2 linked regions of the Homo sapiens genome follow. The protein of the gene in region 1 interacts with the protein of each later gene in a biochemical or structural test. Each region holds a gene or a part of one and is shown in the gene's direction. Other genes may lie near its edges. The genes, in order: ELAVL1 and CELF2.

The links.
Region 2: the proteins of ELAVL1 (region 1) and CELF2 form a complex in vitro, tested with the Homo sapiens proteins (one study listed by BioGRID).

What each region holds. Positions count from the first base shown.
Region 1 is NC_000019.10:7,965,917-7,976,924, reverse strand, and holds part of ELAVL1 (ELAV-like protein 1), read left to right. Parts: intron 1-3,046; coding exon 3,047-3,200; intron 3,201-9,134; coding exon 9,135-9,360; intron 9,361-11,008. UniProt on the Homo sapiens protein: RNA-binding protein that binds to the 3'-UTR region of mRNAs and increases their stability.
Region 2 is NC_000010.11:11,020,872-11,027,871, forward strand, and holds part of CELF2 (CUGBP Elav-like family member 2), read left to right. Parts: intron 1-7,000. UniProt on the Homo sapiens protein: RNA-binding protein implicated in the regulation of several post-transcriptional events. Involved in pre-mRNA alternative splicing, mRNA translation and stability.

The sequences.
Region 1 (11,008 bases):
CTTGAGCCCAGGAGTTCAAGTCTAACCTGAGCAACATAGCAAGACCCTGTCTCTACAAAAAAAACTAAAAAAAAAAAAAAAAAATGTAGCGTGTCAGGTCATGATCAACGCAGTCAAGAACTAAATAGGGACAGGAGGAACTGGGCGTTGATGCCAGTGGAGGGATCTGTGGCAAGCTGAGTGGTCAGGAGTTTGCTCAGCTGCCATGACAAAGCCCCACAGGCCAGGTTGCTTCAACAGAAGAAGGGTATCAACTCACAGTTCTGGAGGCTGGAAGCCCGAGACCAAGGTGTCAGCAGGGTTGGTTTCTCTTGAAGGCACTGGGAAGGGATCTGTCACAGGCCTCTCTCACAGCTTCTGGTGGAGGCTGGTGGTCTCTGGCACTGCTTGCTTTAGAGAAGCATCACCCCAGTGTCTGCCTCCATCTTCACACAGACTTCTCCCTGTGAGAGTGCCTGTATCCACATTTCCCGCCTTTCTAAATTGAATTTATGTTTTCAAAAAAAATACTTTTTTTTTTTTTGAGATGGAGTCTTGCTCTGTCACTCAGGCTGGAGTGCAGTGGCGCGATCTCGGCTCACTGCAAGCTCCGCCTCCTGGGTTCACGCCATTCTCCTGCCTCAGCCTCCCGAGTAGCTGGGACTACAGGCGCCTGCCACCATGCCTGGCTAATTTTTTGTATTTTTAGTAGAGATGGGGTTTCACCATGTTAGCCAGGATGGTCTCGATCTCCTGACCTCGTGATCCACCCGCCTCGGCCTCCCAAAGTGCTGGGATTATAGGCATGAGCCACTGCGCCCAGCCAAAAAAAAATACTTTTTTTTTTTTTTTAAAGACAGGACCTCACTCAGTCACCCAGGCTGGACTGCAGTGATGTGATCACGGCTCACTGCAGCCTCAAACTCCTGAGCTCAGGTGATCCTCCTACCTCAGCCTCCCGAGTAGCTGGGAATAGAGGTATGCCCCACCACGACCAGCTAATTTTTTTTGTAGAGATGGGGTCTTGCCATGTTGCCCAGGCTGAACTCTTGGGTTCAAGCGATCCTCCCACTCAGCCTCCAAAACAGTGGGATTACTGGCCTGCGCCACCACACCTGGCCTAAATTTCCCTCTTTTATAAGGACATCAGTCACATTTGATTAGAGATCACCCTATACCAGTGTGACCTCGTCTTAACTGATTACATCCGCAATGACTGTATCCAAATCAGGTCACGTTTTGAGGTCCCAAGGGGTTAGGACTTCGGCATATGAATTTGGATTGTGGGGTGGGGGGAACACGATTGAACCCCTCACTGGATGAATTCTTGAGAATGGGCAGCCAGAAAAAGACCTGATTGAGGCCAAAGAGCAAGCGATGTTGGGAGCTTAGGAAAGAGGGTTCTGGCCGAGGGGCCGGGGAGCCCCAGGTCAGTGCACGCCTGCTGTGCGCCAGCTGTTCTGATTCTAGCCTGACTGAACATGACAGTGTCCAGAGAGAAGAGGAAAGCAGAGTTCCCATGGTCCTTGGAGACACCTGTCCTTGGGAGGCATCAGAGCTTTCCCCAGCATTTGGCTCTAGGGCACTTCTCCTCTGGGGCTTCATCCAGGGACGGCAGTAGGTCCAGTCAGTGCCAGCCTCAGCTCCGCTCCACTGGCGCCAGGGTCATGGTTTGGCAGGCCCCCAAATACTGCCCCAGTCCAGACAGGTCTGCAGGGAGCCAGGGCAAGCCCGGACACTAGGGGAGGCTGGGGGCCAAGGCAGCCTCTTTTTCTCTGGGGACAGCACTGGCAGCCCCTGACCCACATCATGGGGTGAGCAAGTGTCCCCAGAGCTCCTGTCCACAGGCTGATGGAGGTGCCCCGGGCCTGGGAGCAGCACGGCTTCCCCAGAGACCTCATGGGCTCCGTAGTGACATGCTCCCTCGATTCCCACCGCTACCAGGCAGAGCTGGCCTCCAGCCCCACACTCCTCTCCTCGTGGGGCTGTCCTGTTCCCCTGCTGGGCCGCCCACTGCCCTATGAGCAGGGGCAATGTCTGTTGTTCCTTCTCTGGAACATGATAGGAGCTTCTCAGAGGATGCTGTGTGTGTGTTCTCAGCACGCAGATTCTGCCCAGTGACTCCTGAGTGGCGGCTTCTCCCTGCGTTCTGGTCTCAGTTACCTTGGCTCATCAGTTCTGTGCCCCTCACTCAAAGGGAATGAACTTCCTTTCGCACAGGTTCAAGTCCCCACCCTTCTCGGGAACACATCTCCTGCTCCCTCCTCCATATCCCAGCCTCCTGACGAGGCTGTGAGTCCTGCCAGGCTGCCCCTTCACAGGCAGAGGGGTTCCACTGTGGTCCTTTTCTTCCTTCTGGGCCCATGGGGTCTGCACGGCCGTCAGCGCCAACCTGAGAAAGCACCGAAGACCTTGTCTTGCATTGGCCTCCGGGCTCCCCTCACCACCCTCTCCACACGAATGATGAATGTACCATTTTGTCAAAGCACCCAGAAGGTTCTCTTCAGTTTTCTTTGATTTTGCAAAATATAAATCCAAAAGGCATTGAGTCGTTTAATATTGAACACTTGAGTGGATTTGAGTACAAACTCGGGGTCCTCCCAGAACTCACAGCCCCTGTCAGGGCTTCTGTGGCGAGCTTGCTCTTTGGCAGGGGAGTCTCCTGTGTTCCCAGTAGCTCCCAGCTTGCTTGCCCGCTGCAGCACGGGCTGCTTTCAGGCACCAGGACCTCTCTGGCACCGGCTCACTGTCCAGCACATCAGAGAGGTAGCCACACACAAGCTGCGGGCCCTCAGTTGCTGGGCTTTGTGACATAGGAGTCACGCCTGCCTCCTTGAGGATGGTGAGCACCCAGTGAGGAAGCACTGCCAGGCATCCTGGCTCACGGCCCATCCCTCAGTGAGCTTGCCACCATGCGGCTGCAGGCGGTGAGCGTCAGTGATGATAATCGTTCCCTGCATGATTTCTAACACACAGTGTTGGCTTTTCCTAACCCAGCATTCAACACCCTCCTCAATGCTTTGGCCACGTGCCTGTACTAATCTCGGAAAGTGGTTGTGTTCCCAAGGTGTCGTATGCTCGCCCGAGCTCAGAGGTGATCAAAGACGCCAACTTGTACATCAGCGGGCTCCCGCGGACCATGACCCAGAAGGACGTAGAAGACATGTTCTCTCGGTTTGGGCGGATCATCAACTCGCGGGTCCTCGTGGATCAGACTACAGGTACCAGAGGGGCCCCAGACGCGTGGGGAGGGTGTTCTCTAGGTGGGGGCTGGGTTTTCTAGGGAAGGCAGATCACCGTTTGATTTTAAATGTCATTAGTTATTCCGCAAACGAGGACAGCACCAAAATGAGAAGACGTTGGCTTTGGTTTGAGGAGGCTGAGGAGGTAAGATGGCATTAAAAGAAGCTGGGGATATCTGGGCGTGGTGGCTCACGCCTGTAATCCCAGCACTTTGGGAGGCCAAGGTGGGTGGATCACGAGGTCAGGAGATGGAGACCAGCCTGACCAACATGGTGAAACCCTGTCTCTACTAAAAATACAAAAAATTAGCTGGGCATGGTGGCGGGCGCCTGTAGTCCCAGCTACTCGGGAGGCTGAGACAGGAGAATGGCATGAACCCGGGAAGCGGAGGTTGCAGTGAGCCGAGGTCTTGCCACTGCACTCCAGCGTGGGTGACAGAGCGAGACTCCGTCTTAAAAAAAAAAAAAAAAAAAGCTGGGGATTAGGCCAGCATTTCATGTACAGTGAAAACGCCAAGAGATTCTAGCACCTTCCCTCAGGCACCCAAATGTGCTGGCCTTGCCCATGAATGGGGTGAAAAGGACACTGCAGGCCGGGTGTGGTGGCTCACGCCTGTAATCCCAGCACTTTGGGAGGCCGAGGTGGACGGATCACCTGAGGTCAGGAGTTTGAGACCAGCCTGGCCAACATGGTGAAGCCCCATCTCTACTAAAAATACAAAAATTAGCCAGGTGTGGTGGCAGGCGCCTGTAATCCCAGCTACTCGGGAGGCTGAGGCAGGAGAATCGCCTGGACCCCAGGAGGCGGAGATTGCAGCAAGCCGAGATTGCGCCACTGAACTCCAGCCTGGGCAGCAGAGCGGGATTTCATCTCAAAAAAAAAAAAAAAAAAAAAAAAAAAAAGGATACTGCAGCCAGGTGCGGTGGCGCGGGCATGTCATCACAGCTGCTCAGGAGACTGAGGTGGGAGGATTGCTTGAGCCCAGGAGTTCACAGCTGTGGTGAGCCGTGATCGCGCCACTACACTTCAGCCTGGGCAACAGAGCAAGACCCTGTTTCTTAAAAAAAAAGAAAAAGAAAAAAAAAGGCTGCTGCACATTTGTCCACTGTGGCTTTCGTTGCAGGCATTTGGGGTGCAGTAGTCTGATGGCCCAAATCCCCAGAATTCGGATGCCCCTCTCTGGGGAGCACATCTAAAGTGCACAGAGCACATGGCAGCGAATTCCTCTAATGGGCAGGCAATCCTGGCCACTTTGCTGGCCCTCCCAGTCCGTCTTGGCACTGGATGTGGGCTCTGGGCTTTGTGTGATGCCGTCAGGCAGAGATGAGCAGGGGACATGTGCACGCCCACGGCTGTGCTCCGGCCCTACTGCCTGGCCCGCCTGCCGCACTAGGCTAGGAACTAGTGCCCCACCACATCCTTTGCCAAGCCCTGCACGTGGCCCCGCCTGGGGGACAGGGAGCTCGGGCCACCCTGAGGGGATTTAGGATCGCTCAGCTCTGTTTGGGGCAGGAGCAGGAGTCTGCTAACTAACCAGCAGGGAAGAATCCACTCCCTGAGCCTAGTGAGGCCCATGCGTTGTATGGGTGGTTTTCATATTCTTCCCACACAGACTGTGTGTGCCGCACCTTGGCTGTGATGTTGAAATAACACCGAGTAGTTGGGCCACAGAAAGTCATGCTCTGAGGTGACCTCTTTTTGAGAGAACAGCAGCACTCCCCCAGCAGCCCAGAGCCTCGCCTTTCATGTGCACACAGGTGGGGCCTTCCTGGCCTGCAGGCTAGAGGGGCATGCACATTGTCCTGCGTCCCCTGAGCTGCGTGCTTTGGGGTGGGCGGCCTTATCAGTCTCTCTTCCTCCTCCTTTCCGGCTGTAGGAACCCCACCTGGCATGCACTGGCCCTGCCGCTGCCGGCCTTCGTTCCCGCTGGGGCCCGAGGAGGGGAAGGGCCCCTTTGCACTTCATGGGGGCCCTGGGAGCTTCCTGTAGCCTAGCACAGACTCGCGCCCTGGCACCGGGCAGTGCCGAAGGACAGGGCTCACTCGCACGGCCGCCGCCATTCTGCCTTTGCTCTGGGGAGAGGGTCGGGGGATGCCAGTTACTCGGTGTAAACTCCCCTGGTCTGCACCAGAAGAGTCTCCTGTGGTCCCTGAAGTCCTCTCACTTAAGTGCCAGCTGAGCGAATGATCCTGTCAGTGGGCCAGTGTGTGGGTTTATTGCCCCCCATTCTGCACTGGGGCATCTGAGCTGGCTGTGCAGGGCCCAGGGCCGGGGGAACCAACCTCACTGGCCCACAGTCCACTCCCCTCCTCCTCTAGACCCCACATGCACTGCTCTGCCTCGGCCTGTCTGTGTCCAGTATGGCCCTGATGAGGGAAGCCTGTGCTCCACTTGGAGCCCCCAATGCCTGAGAACATGCCTCCAGCCACCCAACTCTCTTGGGGCCTTCCCTAGTCTCTCAGGCACACACGGGCCACAGGCAGGGGGAACTCACCTCTGCACACAGCTGCTGGGGGCATTGCTTCCTTTCCCTCTGCAAGATAGTGTCTCCCAGGGTGTTGGGGGCACCTTAGTATTGCGCCCCCAGGGTCGGCTGTGAACCTCAAGGTGGCCTAAGGAACCTTTGTCATCTTTGCAGAGCAGTGAGGGAGGCAGAGAGAAGGGAGCCAGGAGGGTCTCCCGGCTCTGCTTCCCACCCCAGGATGCAGAATTGGTGGGAAGGTGAGGCTCCCATCCCAGGGCTGTAGCTCCCTCTGCTGGAGACAGAGTGTGTGTGGCAGGCCAGCCTGTGTGGAGTTTGCCTTCCTGTGACGGGCTTTTTAGTGTTAAATAGATGAGGATGGCCGGGCGCGGTGGCTCACGCCTGTAATCCTAATACTTTGGGAGGCCAAGGTGGGAGGATTGCTTGAGCCCAGGAGTTCAGAACAGCCTGGCCAACATAGCGAGACCCCCAACTCTTTTTTTAAAAAAAGAGAAAAAAAATCCCACCCTGAGCTGACAGAGCTTAATTTTTTGTATTCCTTCGCTTCTATATCCACCTTAATTGTGAACTTTATAGTGTATTCATCTGGAGATTATGCCGTTTCTTGGACTCTGCTGTTAAATTCTAAAAAACACAAGGGGGCCGGGGGCCGTGGCTCACGCCTGTAATCCCAGCATTTTGGGAGGCCAAGGTGGGTGGATCACCTGAGGTCAGCAGTTCGAGACCTGCCTGGCCAACATGGCAAACCCCATCTGTACTAAAAATAGGCCGGGCACGGTGGCTTATGCCTGTAATCCCAGCACTTTGGGAGGCCAAGGTGGGCGGATCACGAGGTCGAGAGGTCGAGACCATCCTGGCCAACATGGTGAAACCCCGTCTCCACTAAAAATACAAAAACTTAGCCAGGCATGGTGGCAGGCACCTGTAATCCCAGCTACTGGGGAGGCTGAGGCAGGAGTATCGTTTGAACCTGGGAGGCGGAGGTTGCAGTGAGCCGAGATTGCACCATTGCACTCCAGCCTGGGCAAAAAGAGCGAAACTCCATCTCTAAATAAATAAATAAAGTAAAATAAAATAAAAATTAGCCAGGCATGGTGGCAGGCGCCTGGAGTCCCACCTACTCGGGAGGCTGAAGCAGGAGAATCACTTGAACCGGGGAGGTGGAGGTTGCAGTGAGCTGAGATCGTGCCATTGTACTCCAGCCTGGGCGACAGAGCGAGACTCCATCTTAAAAAAAAAATTAAAAATAAAAAACACTAGGGGAAGAAAAAAACAAAAAATGCAGAGCCATCTTCAGAAAGTATACATCCATTAAATAATTGAGTGAATTGATATCCCCCTCTGCTAAACAGCATCCCTCCTGCCCCCCTTACTAGAGCTTTCTTCCTTTCACTCAGGCAGTTTGCATTTGAAAGCCACTCTACAACCCCAGACGAGGAAGCCACACTTGCACACGTGCCTTCTCTCCGCTGGGCCGCAGGGTCTTTAGAAACAGAATGAAGCCATCTGCTTGGAGCCAGCTTCCCTACGAGCCGGCCAGCGTCAGCTCTCAGTCGTATTTGCCTAAAGTTCGATTTTCATTTAGGTTTCCAAGACTGACTAAGCTGTCATTCGTGTCGTGAGAGACTCAAAGAAAACAGCATCTGTCAGGGTTGTGTTTTCAGGTGTTCCTTCTGAGCAGCAGCTCAGAAATGAGCTTGAGCCCCAGAATATTCCTGGCACGTGTGCGTAGCGCTAGGTCTGACCTTACTAAAGCTGCTGTCTCTGTGCTCACGGGGGGCCTGCAGTGTCGCGATTGTGGGGGCAGCTGGCGGGACCCTCTGGGAAGTGGTGGAGTAAGGTGCCGTGTGAGGCGTGGAGACAGGACATGGGGACAGTTGGGTGCCCGCTGGACAGGTCACCCAAGGCCCCGGGCTGCCTGGCTTTGGTCGTTGTTTGTTACCATGCACCAGAGGCCTTTGCCTGGAGAAGAAACCTGACTTAAGACACCCTTTGACTGGAAGTCTTTCTTTTTCCTTAAGAGGTGAGATCTTACTGTGTTGTCCAGGCTGGTCTTGAACTCCTGGCCTCAGGCGATTCTCTTGCCTCAGCCTCTGGAGTAGTTGAGACCACAGGCATGAGCCTTGGCCTGGCTTGACTAAAAGTCTTGAGAACCAGGGTGTTTGGGTTGGGCTGTCTGTGACGGCCTCTCCCACTGGGACACACCCGTGACTCCCGCCTAGTGATGTCACTCTCAGACTGGCCTCTCAGCTGTCACCTCTCCCACCCCTGGGCCTTCCCCTGACTCCATCATGTCCTTGCCCCCAGAGAAGGAGCTAGTGCGCTGCTCAGTGTGCCCTCATCCCCATCCCCCTCATCCAGTTTCCAGCCCGCTTCCCAGGTTCCTCAAGGGACGGGCTACTCATGTTTCCCTCCCGGGCCTAGTGTATGGACAGGCAGGGGTGCAGGACAGCCATGCTCTCCTTCCACCCGCCTTGCTCAGCATCTCACACCCATGCCCAGCTGACCAATGTCCCCCATAGCAGGACGGTCCTCAGGTCTCACACTGCTCCGTCCAGGGATTGGGTTTAGCCGGGAACCCGGGACTGGCCCTTGGGTGGCTCAGTTGAGGTGGCAAGAGAAGATGCCCTCTGGGCTTGGCTGCTGGGGCCCTGGCCCTTCCCATACAGGGACCCCAGGCCTGCCTGGCGAGCCTGTGGATAGGTTCAGCTCTGCTGTATGAGCCTGGGCAGTGTTCTGGCCTCATTTGATTCTGATGGCAATTTGGGGCCCACGGGAGGGGTGTAGGACCTTAGAGTGGAGTATCCCAAGACAGGAGTGAGGTGACAGCAGCAGCATGGAGCTGGCAGGGGGTGGCCACAGGACCCTACTCCCTCCTGGCATGAAGGAGAAGGCATGCAGGCTGAGCTGGGCACCTTTGCAGCAGGCTCGGCCACGAGGCCTGCTGTCACAGCGGGCCCAGAGACAGCAGCCAGGAGAGTGGCCCCTGAGCCCAGGGAGGATCTCTCAGACGCAGTCCCCACTCCAACCCTGTTACCCACCAACCACACACCACACCCACGCACCCACTCTGTGGCGGACACCTGGCAGCTAAATAGTGACGGTGGATGTGCTGTTTCCTAATGTTGCTTTCTTCCAAATAAGAGGCCTGGGTGTCTATTGGGGATGTCTGTCACCAAAATATCTTTGGGCGCCAACACTGTGGAGTCATGGCTTCAGCCGGGAAGAAAGTCTGAAGCTTTAATCTTCTGTTAGTCATTGGTTTTCTTTACTCCATCCATTTGTTTTCACTTTTAGGTTTAATTTTTGTTTATTTCCTTAACCAGACTTCTAGCCTGGCCCACAGTAGACTGACCTGACTTTTGCTTTTCAGTTTTGAAAGTCCTAGCGTTTTTCCCCCTAACTCCGTTTTTGTTGATTTGTTGAAAAGGTTTGTCCAGAGGGGTTGCGTTTATCCGGTTTGACAAACGGTCGGAGGCAGAAGAGGCAATTACCAGTTTCAATGGTCATAAACCCCCAGGTTCCTCTGAGCCCATCACAGTGAAGTTTGCAGCCAACCCCAACCAGAACAAAAACGTGGCACTCCTCTCGCAGCTGTACCACTCGCCAGCGCGACGGTTCGGAGGCCCCGTTCACCACCAGGCGCAGAGATTCAGGTGGGTCGGGAGGGTGCGCGCTCCTGAAAGCCATACTTAGCCCCGCTGGCAGGCGACGGCACAGCCACAGAATAGAAACCACGGGGATGATAGACTGATCCCGTCAGAGAGCGCGTTTCAGAATCATTCTGCAGCTCCACACCACAACCTCCATCAGAAAGGTGTCTGTAGGAAAGCCGTTTACTTCCGATTGGGCGTTGTCTTTCATGGGAATCAAAACAGTGACTCCAGGCTGGACACAGTGACTTATCCCTGTAATCCTAGCACCTTGGGTGGCTGAGAGAGGAAGATCGATTGAGCCCAGGAGTTCAAGACCAACCTGGGCAATATTGCGAGACCCCATCTCTACAAAAAATACAAAGCTGGCCAGGCATGGCGGTGCGCTCCTGTAGTTGCAGCAACTCAGGAAGCTGAGGTGGGAGGATTGCTTGAGCCCAGGAGGTTGAGGCTGCAGTGAGTTGTGATCATACCACTGCACTCCAGCCTGGGCCACAGGGCCAGAACCTGTCTTTTTTTGTTTTTATTAAAAAAAAAAAAAAGACAGCACCAGTCCCCACCAGTTGCTGTGAGCGTGAGCACTTAGAGCTTCAGCACGCAGTTCCTAGTAACAGCAGAACGGAGCCGCGAGCTTTAAAGATGGTTTCATGCCCAGTGTGGGGGAGCACACACCTGTAATCTCAGCTCTCAGGAGGCCGAGTTAGGAGGATTACTTGAAGCCCCGAGTTTGAGCAGCCTGGGCAACAAAGTGAGACCCCTGTTCCTACAAAAAGTAATGAAAAAAACTGGGCATGGTGATGCTGGCCTTTAGTCCCAGCTACTCAGGAGGCCATGGTGGGAGGATCGCTTGAACCCAGGAGGTGGAGGCTGCAGTGAACTATGATTGCACCACTGCACTGCAGCCTGGGTGATAGAGTGAGACCCTTTCTCTAAAAAATAAATGAATAATGAACGTCTCATATCTGTGGGAGAAAAGATGCTGCCTTAGGTATACTCGGGTGAGAGTAGATCTTCCAGCATTCTTAGACATTTGATCAGCAGCCCTAAGGCAAACCTTTTTCAAACACCTGCCTCGTGGAGTCATTTGTATTGGTGAATGTTGTATGTATGCATTCTGTTTATAAGCCCTGTCCTAGAGGGGAGGAGTTTTCCCGGATTCCTTAGTCTTTCCATCCTGAAAATGGTTCTGGCTGCCAGGATGAAGTGGGATAGAGGCGATGAGAGTCAGGGCCTTGGACTCCAGGATGTGGTGTGCTGTCGCCTCAGAAACAGCAGAGGTCTCAGTGTCAGGGCTGTTTTGTTTTTGTCAAAACCTCAAGGAGTGGCATCGAGGGCTTATCTCAGGTATGACAAGGATAGATTTCCCTTTTTTTTTTAATTTTTAATGTTTTTATTTTTTGTTGAGATGGGGTCTCACTGTGTTGCCCAGGCTGGTCTTAAACTCCTAGCCTCAAGTGATCCTCCTACCTCAGCCTCCCAACGTACTGGGATTATAGGCGTGAGCCCGGCCCCATCGTTGTTTTAACAGTGAAGCTGGGTGGGCGCTGCCCAGTGCCACACATGCTGCTGTGAGAGGTGTTATTCTCATGGCTGAGTTACCCAGCATTCTCAGCCTGGCTCAAATTCCAAAGCTGGCCTGCCTTCCTTGAGG
Region 2 (7,000 bases), on another chromosome or scaffold:
AGTTTTGGGGTTTTAAACATTCGGTATCAAAACTATAAATGGAAATGGACATTTTAAATAATCTTGGCTATTAAAGTTTCATTGTCTTTGTGTTACTATACAATATCATCTACAATATTAGCCACACAGCATAATGAAAACAGGCACTGATTTTTTTTTAAATTTGATTTTAAACTGACAGTTGATTTTCAATTAAGATGGTGGAGAGTGTTTCCTCCTTTGATTCACCTTTTTAATGACCATATACATGCATTTAGGGTTTGTAAATGGTTTTGGATTTTTAAACAAAGCTAATAAATAAAGTCTCAGAAATGAGAAATTACAGTTAGACTGATAAACACAGCTTAAAAAGCATTAGGTGTTAGAATAAGACACTGAGAAGAGTCTACCAATAAATTAAAAATAAATTTTTTTTACATTTGGTAGGTAACCTTATTGAAAATGAGAAAAGTTATGTTGACTGTAAATTCATCAGCTTAATGAACTAGCTTTTTGTTAAGTCCTTTCAAGTTAGGATAACTGGCAAAATATCTATCAGTGTATAATTAAACTGAAGGGTGGTTCTAAGGACATCATTGTTAAAGCTGAAAAGGGCTTTAGAGACCATCTCATCAGACCTCATTTTATAGATTAAGAAACTGTTAGAGGGGCAGTGTGACGAGTCCAAGAAGTAATTACTGCCTCCCCCCAAAATAAGGAAACGTGAGTTGTTAGTTGAGTGCCTGCCATGCGCCAGGATAGTTTATTCACACCGTCTCTAATCTGCAGGGTGGATATTGCCCACATTTTACAGATGATGCTTAAAGAGGTGACCTGCTTGCCCCTGCCACATAGGCAGTAAATGGCAAAACTGTGGTTTTCAAGTAAGTGAACACATGTGGGGTGGCATGTAATGTTCATGGGTTGATGCAGAGAAGAACACTGAATTAAAGGATATGACATACCCTTTTATCAAAATCAAAACTGTGCCATGTGAGAATGAGCATAAGAAATAAGTATGTCACCTGATCAGGATTGATGTATGTGAAACATCATTTTATACTTTCTAATTTGATTCCAATTCGGTTATTCCATATATTTATTAACTAAGCAGAATACGTTTTAATTAAAAATCTTTTTGGTTTACAAGGTTCCAGCAAGATAAAGATCAAAAGCAGTGGGGTTCTGTTTTTCTCCTCCATGGGCATTTAAAGTCTATTTAGAAAATGCAGTTATAAATAATACGGAGATAACTGGCATTTATCACCTGATACTCTGATGGTCATGAAAGGAAATTAAAATGAGAAAAGTCTAAAGAAAAGACTTTGCGTATGGTTCTTTAAGGAAAATTTTTGAAGTGTTTTTTTCAGTTGAGATTGCTCCGTTAACAGCACATGTTATCAGCTGCTTTCCGAGAGGAAGAATTCATCCCACATTGGCTTTTTAGAACACTGATGTTATCTTTGATCTGGGCAGAGGTATTATTTTAATTGTTTAATCTTGCTGTTTAATTGCAATTTGCTGGGTTGAGATAACTTTGGCATCTGTTGATGAGATGCAGTGAGCTGGGGAAACAAGACCCTTGAAAGACAAGATAAAAAGGTGATGGGATTTTTGGATATGAACCTAGTAATTAAGATTTCATGGGATCATTTGGAGTGTTTTCCACTTCTCAGTGTTTGGTTGTTTTTTTTTTCTCCCCTGACAGCTACAATAACACTGTATTTGGCCTCTGGTAAAAGACTGCAATATCCTTAGCTTTTTTACATAAATCCCCAAACTTCATTTCTCTTTACCCCTTCCTTACTTTTATTAAAGGTTAAACACTCGTTTACTTAGCATAAAAAGACAGGTTACGTTTGGCATGCAAAATGATCTGATACAGCTGAGTGTAATACAGCCAGCGCCCAATATGACCCAGCTCTTGGGCAAAAAATCAGGGTAGCGATCATTGTTGAGACTTATATGTAGATTATAATGGGAATATGATGTCATTGTTGAATTTTTTGTAAAAACCGACAAAAATGAAAACAAACTCTCATAAATGTTAAGCAGTACTATAAGCATTCCGTATCTAATTTGCATTTAAATGGAAAATGTTATATTTTCAACATGAGTCAAGGAGCAAAATTAATAAGTCATCAATGTTGCTTATGTTCAATGCTGCACTTTACCCAAACTTAATAGGTCATTATTTCCACTTTAGAGTATTACCGTTTGGGAGATTTTGTTTCTTCACGGGAGGGTCACATTTTCGCTTTTTGTTTTCGGATTAGGCCATCACAAAGAGTTAGATGTTTGTCAGTGTAATGTTTGTTTTACAGAACCACAGAAGGGAGGGTTTGGAAACTACTAATGATTTCCAGTTCATTAGCACCTACAAGTTCTCATGCATCCTGTTTGTTTCCTCCACCAAGGAGGTGCCGAGTAATATAATGAAGCCAGTATCAGTGGTGTGCTACTTGTGTAGCAGTGCAGAAAATGTATTTTTATTTTTCCTTAAGAAACAGCTCTTGCTAAACTTAAGAGAAATGGAGCTGCACATTCCTGGGAAAAACCTATGTGGGAAACAAAAACTAATTAGAGCAGCAAATGTGATGCTTTCAGGTAATTGTAAAATAATTATTCCCCTTTAGTATCATCACCGTGTAATTGTTCCATCCAATATCCTCATGCTCTGAATCCAGATGTGAAGGGATGGAAACCATCTCCTCCTCCTGGGAATGTATTTTTCATTTAGTGAGAGCTTTAGACTCCTCCTAAAGGACTTTTAAAAGAAAGGGGAAGACATTGAGGGAGATTTTGAACAGCTTCACTCTCCCCATTTGTTCTAAATCATGACAGAAAGTGATTACTCCAACTGTTTTTATAGAAATACAATTCCAGTTATGTGGCTGAAATGCCTTGTGAGCGTATTTGAGATTTACGCATTGGCCGTGCCAACCTGGAGTTTTATGAACAGTCTCTTTTATGAACTGCAGATTGTATGTTCTGTTTAGATACTAAAAGTGATGTTTTAAAATCAGCTGATAATTTAAAATGTAATGCTAATAAGTGTGTAGTCCTGTGGTTTTCAAAATGACGTATGAGTACAAATTCAGGTTTTGGTTAAATTTTATTTACTCCATTTGAGTGAATGCCTCAGAGCCAACATAACCAGCAAATTATTAGACCCATTTTTTTTCCTCCTAAAGATTTATGTAAATTAAGTTTAGGCTGTATTTAAACTATCAGGTCGGCTTTATTAGTCTGTGTTTTTCTATCAGGTTATGTGGCCTTTTACTTAAGGTTGGGTTTTAAATGAAGAAATCTATTCTGAAGAGATCTTCATTTAAACAATCTGTGCGTCCTCCAGATCAGCAGCCCAGGAGTCACCTAGGTAGTTGACCAGTTTGCCAGGATTCCTCTAGTGCTTTAAAGGTAGGAGTTAGATACAATATTTTGATTTTAAATCTCAGTAATTAAAGAAGTCAGTCGGGTACGGTTGCTCACGCCTGTAATCCCAGCACTTTGGGAGGCCGAGGCAGGCGAATCACCTTCAGGAGTTGGAGACCAGCCTGGCCAACATGGCAAAACCCTGTGTCTACTAAAAATACAAAAATTAGTTCGCCGTGGTTTCGCATGCCTCTAGTCCCACTTACTTGGGAGGCTGAGGGGGGAGGATCGCCTGAACCTGGGAGGTGGAGGTTGCAGTGAGCTGAGATGGCAGCATTACACTCCAGCCTGGGCGACAGAGCAAGACTCCGTCTTCTTCTTCTAAGAATAATAATAGTAATAATAATAATAATAATGAAGAAGTCCCGGAAGTTTGTCTCCTCAGTGAGACTGTATGCAGTGCTCTCTGTCATAACCATGGAAATCCAGTCTCCCCAGTGCCACAGCTGATTTGTCTGACATTTACAAGCTCCAATAGGACTGAAGATTTCCTACTTTCACAGATGAAGGTGGTGACTCACTACTCAGGGACAATGAAATTAAGGTCAGCTGATTTATTTCACATCTTGACATAGCTTTTGGACAGCTTAAATTGTTTCTGGTACCATAACAGTGTACTCCCAAGTACTTTGATTTACATACTAAGTCTAAAATTCTGTGCTTTTATGCTGAAAGTCTTGATTTTATGCTTTTTCTAAAGAAAGTTCACAGCTTGAGTAAAACTCATTAAATTTTAAGGTGGTATTTTATATCCTTTCTCCCAAATTATGTCTTCCTTTCTCCTAGTAGCAGGAAAGTTGACCCTCATTTATTTGACACAAAGACAATCAGTTGGTCTTTTAGGCTAAAAGAGTAAAGTATTTTGTCATTTACTTGAATGTGGTCAGTAGGCCTGAAATATGTGTGGGGGTATATACATATATGTGTGTGTGTGTGTGTGTGTGTGTGTGTGTGTATATGTATGTGACTGTATATCTGGAAAGTCATCTTATTGGACATATGGTTAGGCTTTGTGTCCCCACCCAGATCTCATCTTGAATTGTAGTCACCATAGTCCCCACGTGTCAAGGGAGAGAGCAGGTGGAGGTAATTGAATTATAGGGACAGTTTCTCGTGTGCTGTCCTCGTGGTAGCGAGTTCTCACGAGATCCGATGGTTTTATAAGGGGCCCTTCCCCCTTCGTTCAACGCTTTCCCTTCTTGCCACCTTGTGAGGGAGGTGCCTGGCTTCCCCTTCCCTTTCTGCCGTGATTGTAAGTTTCCTGAGGTCTCCCCAGTCATGCTTAACTGTGAGTTGAGTAAAACTCTCTTCTTTATAAATTACCCAGTCTCAGGCAGTTCTTTATAGCAGTTTGAAAATGGACTAATACAGCATAGGTCTTCGCTTTCTTAAAATATTTACCACGAAATGGTCTTTGGTTACAAAAGTGATCATACTTGTGTTTTTGGATTATTACCATTGTAACTGAAAGACTTTATGTTCAGAAAAGTTTCACATTGTGACCAAAGATGTACTGCAAATTAGTGATACTGCTAGAAAAAAGTCTCAGGACTGTATTTCAACTCTTCTGCCCAGAACTTTGGATTAACTCTGATGAAGGGTGAAGACAACCTCACTCTGGCAGTTCTGCCATGTTACTGGGTGAAAAGCTCAGACTCTTTCCCTTTTGAGGGCCTCTTTTCTCCTCACTGCTGAGTCCTTGGATCTGGGGGCTTCTTCTGTTTCTCAGTGGCAATTAAGATGTTGCTACTCCTGAGGTCTTTTCAGAGTTAGAGTAGGAAGAAAAACAGACTTCACAGAGAAATCTGGACAGTTGGGCCTCCACGGATGTTTTCTTGTTATGCAGACACATACGGTCCTCCGCGGACCACACCCCCTACCTTGTGCCTCTTGGCTGCTGCTTCCATTTTATATGATCCATGTCATGATCCCACTGCCACCTGTTGCTGTTGAAAGGGGTCCTTGAAATTTTTATTGTCTAATGGGAGTCCAGCATATAAACTGAACACTTAAAAAAGGTGAACGTTACAGCAGATTCACAAGCCCGGAAGTGGGTAAATTGGTTTAAACCAACTTAAATACCTACCCGCCTCCCCCGCCACACACACCCAGGTGTTTTCTCTTTGGAACTCGGGGGGAAGACATTGGGTATCAAGTAAAACAGGGTTGAAATCATTTGGTCCTTGAAAACTCTTAGGGGAATAATAGAAAGATGATACCCAAAAGTGTGAAGACAGAAAGCATTTGTTAGAGGACTAATGTGGATTTACTTCGTTGTTTTGCTCTTCACTCCTGAATCTCTGTACCCTGGCCTAGATTCAGTGTGGTCATAACCAGTACAGAGTACAGCTTTCTCTGAAGTTGTCTTGTTGCCCTTCTTATGTTTTCCTGATTTATATATATGTTTTAAAAAATCTCCTTTAATGCCCGTTTTATCCTTTTCCTGAGCGGCTTCCTAAGTTTCAACAGAAGGGGCCACAGCCGTCTGGGACTTAGTTCTCAGGGTTGGAGCCTCGGGAGGAGAGCAGTATCCAAATACCTAGCTCATCACTTGTAAATTCCACTGGAGCAGCTGCTTGTTTCTGCGCATTGAACTGTATTTTGACTTCCTACATTATAGGAGGAGTGTTGAGTTTTCGAGTTGAGCATAAGGGTGGCGTGTTTCGGAATGATTAACTTTATGGATGTCTTTGTCTGGGCCAGCTATATTTGGCTATGCTGCAGCTGTGTTTGCCTTCTCAAAATTGTCACCAGGAGGCCTCCAACTGCAATTAGTCACTTCAGTCCACGCTGGTAACATCTTTGCTCGTGACTCCCATTGTCCAGCCAGCCATCTTTTCTTGGTGTCAGGACTGAGAGATAACACAGGAATCCTTTGAGAAGCCTGAATGCTGCTGGCAGCTCTGTCTCAAAGCAGTTTCTTAATATTAAGCCATCCTTACATTGCCTCCTCGTGCATTTGGGATTCTTCTTTCTTTTCACCACAAGCTCATGTTTTCCTGTCTGCTCGTTCCCCCTTTTCTTTTACGCTCTGATGTCCGAAAGTTGCCGCCAGCATCAAATGGACGGTGTTTCTTCCTCTTCTGGGTACCTAGAGCGCTTGGGAATGCATTTTTACTTCTGGTGTCTTAGAGTCCCCTTACATAAGGGCCCCTTTCCTGTGTTGGAGAGGAGACTGAGAGGCAAGTCGTTTTTTTTATCTTCACCTCGGTTGAGTACTTGCTACAGAATTTACCTTTCTTTCGGGAGGAATTGAGGAAATACTTTTTCTTACTACAAAGACCATTTTCATTCCATTGGCTATGCGTGGTTTTTAATTTTTCATGGAAGTAACTTCCTCTTGGATTGTTCGACTTGCCCTGTATGTCGTAGAATGGAACCACTAGGGACATGGCTTCAGGGCCTCTCCCAGCACCAGAGTGGAAGGGCATCCTTCAAGGCTAGGCGTCCTTTGCCACTGTCTTATGAGAATGCCTGGCCTGCCTTCTAATCTGTTCCATGCCTACTTCAAGTCTCAGTTGACTTGTCAAGATTCCTCGTCTAGAAAATAAGGACAATAAAATACGCTGCTTACCTGTCCCACAGT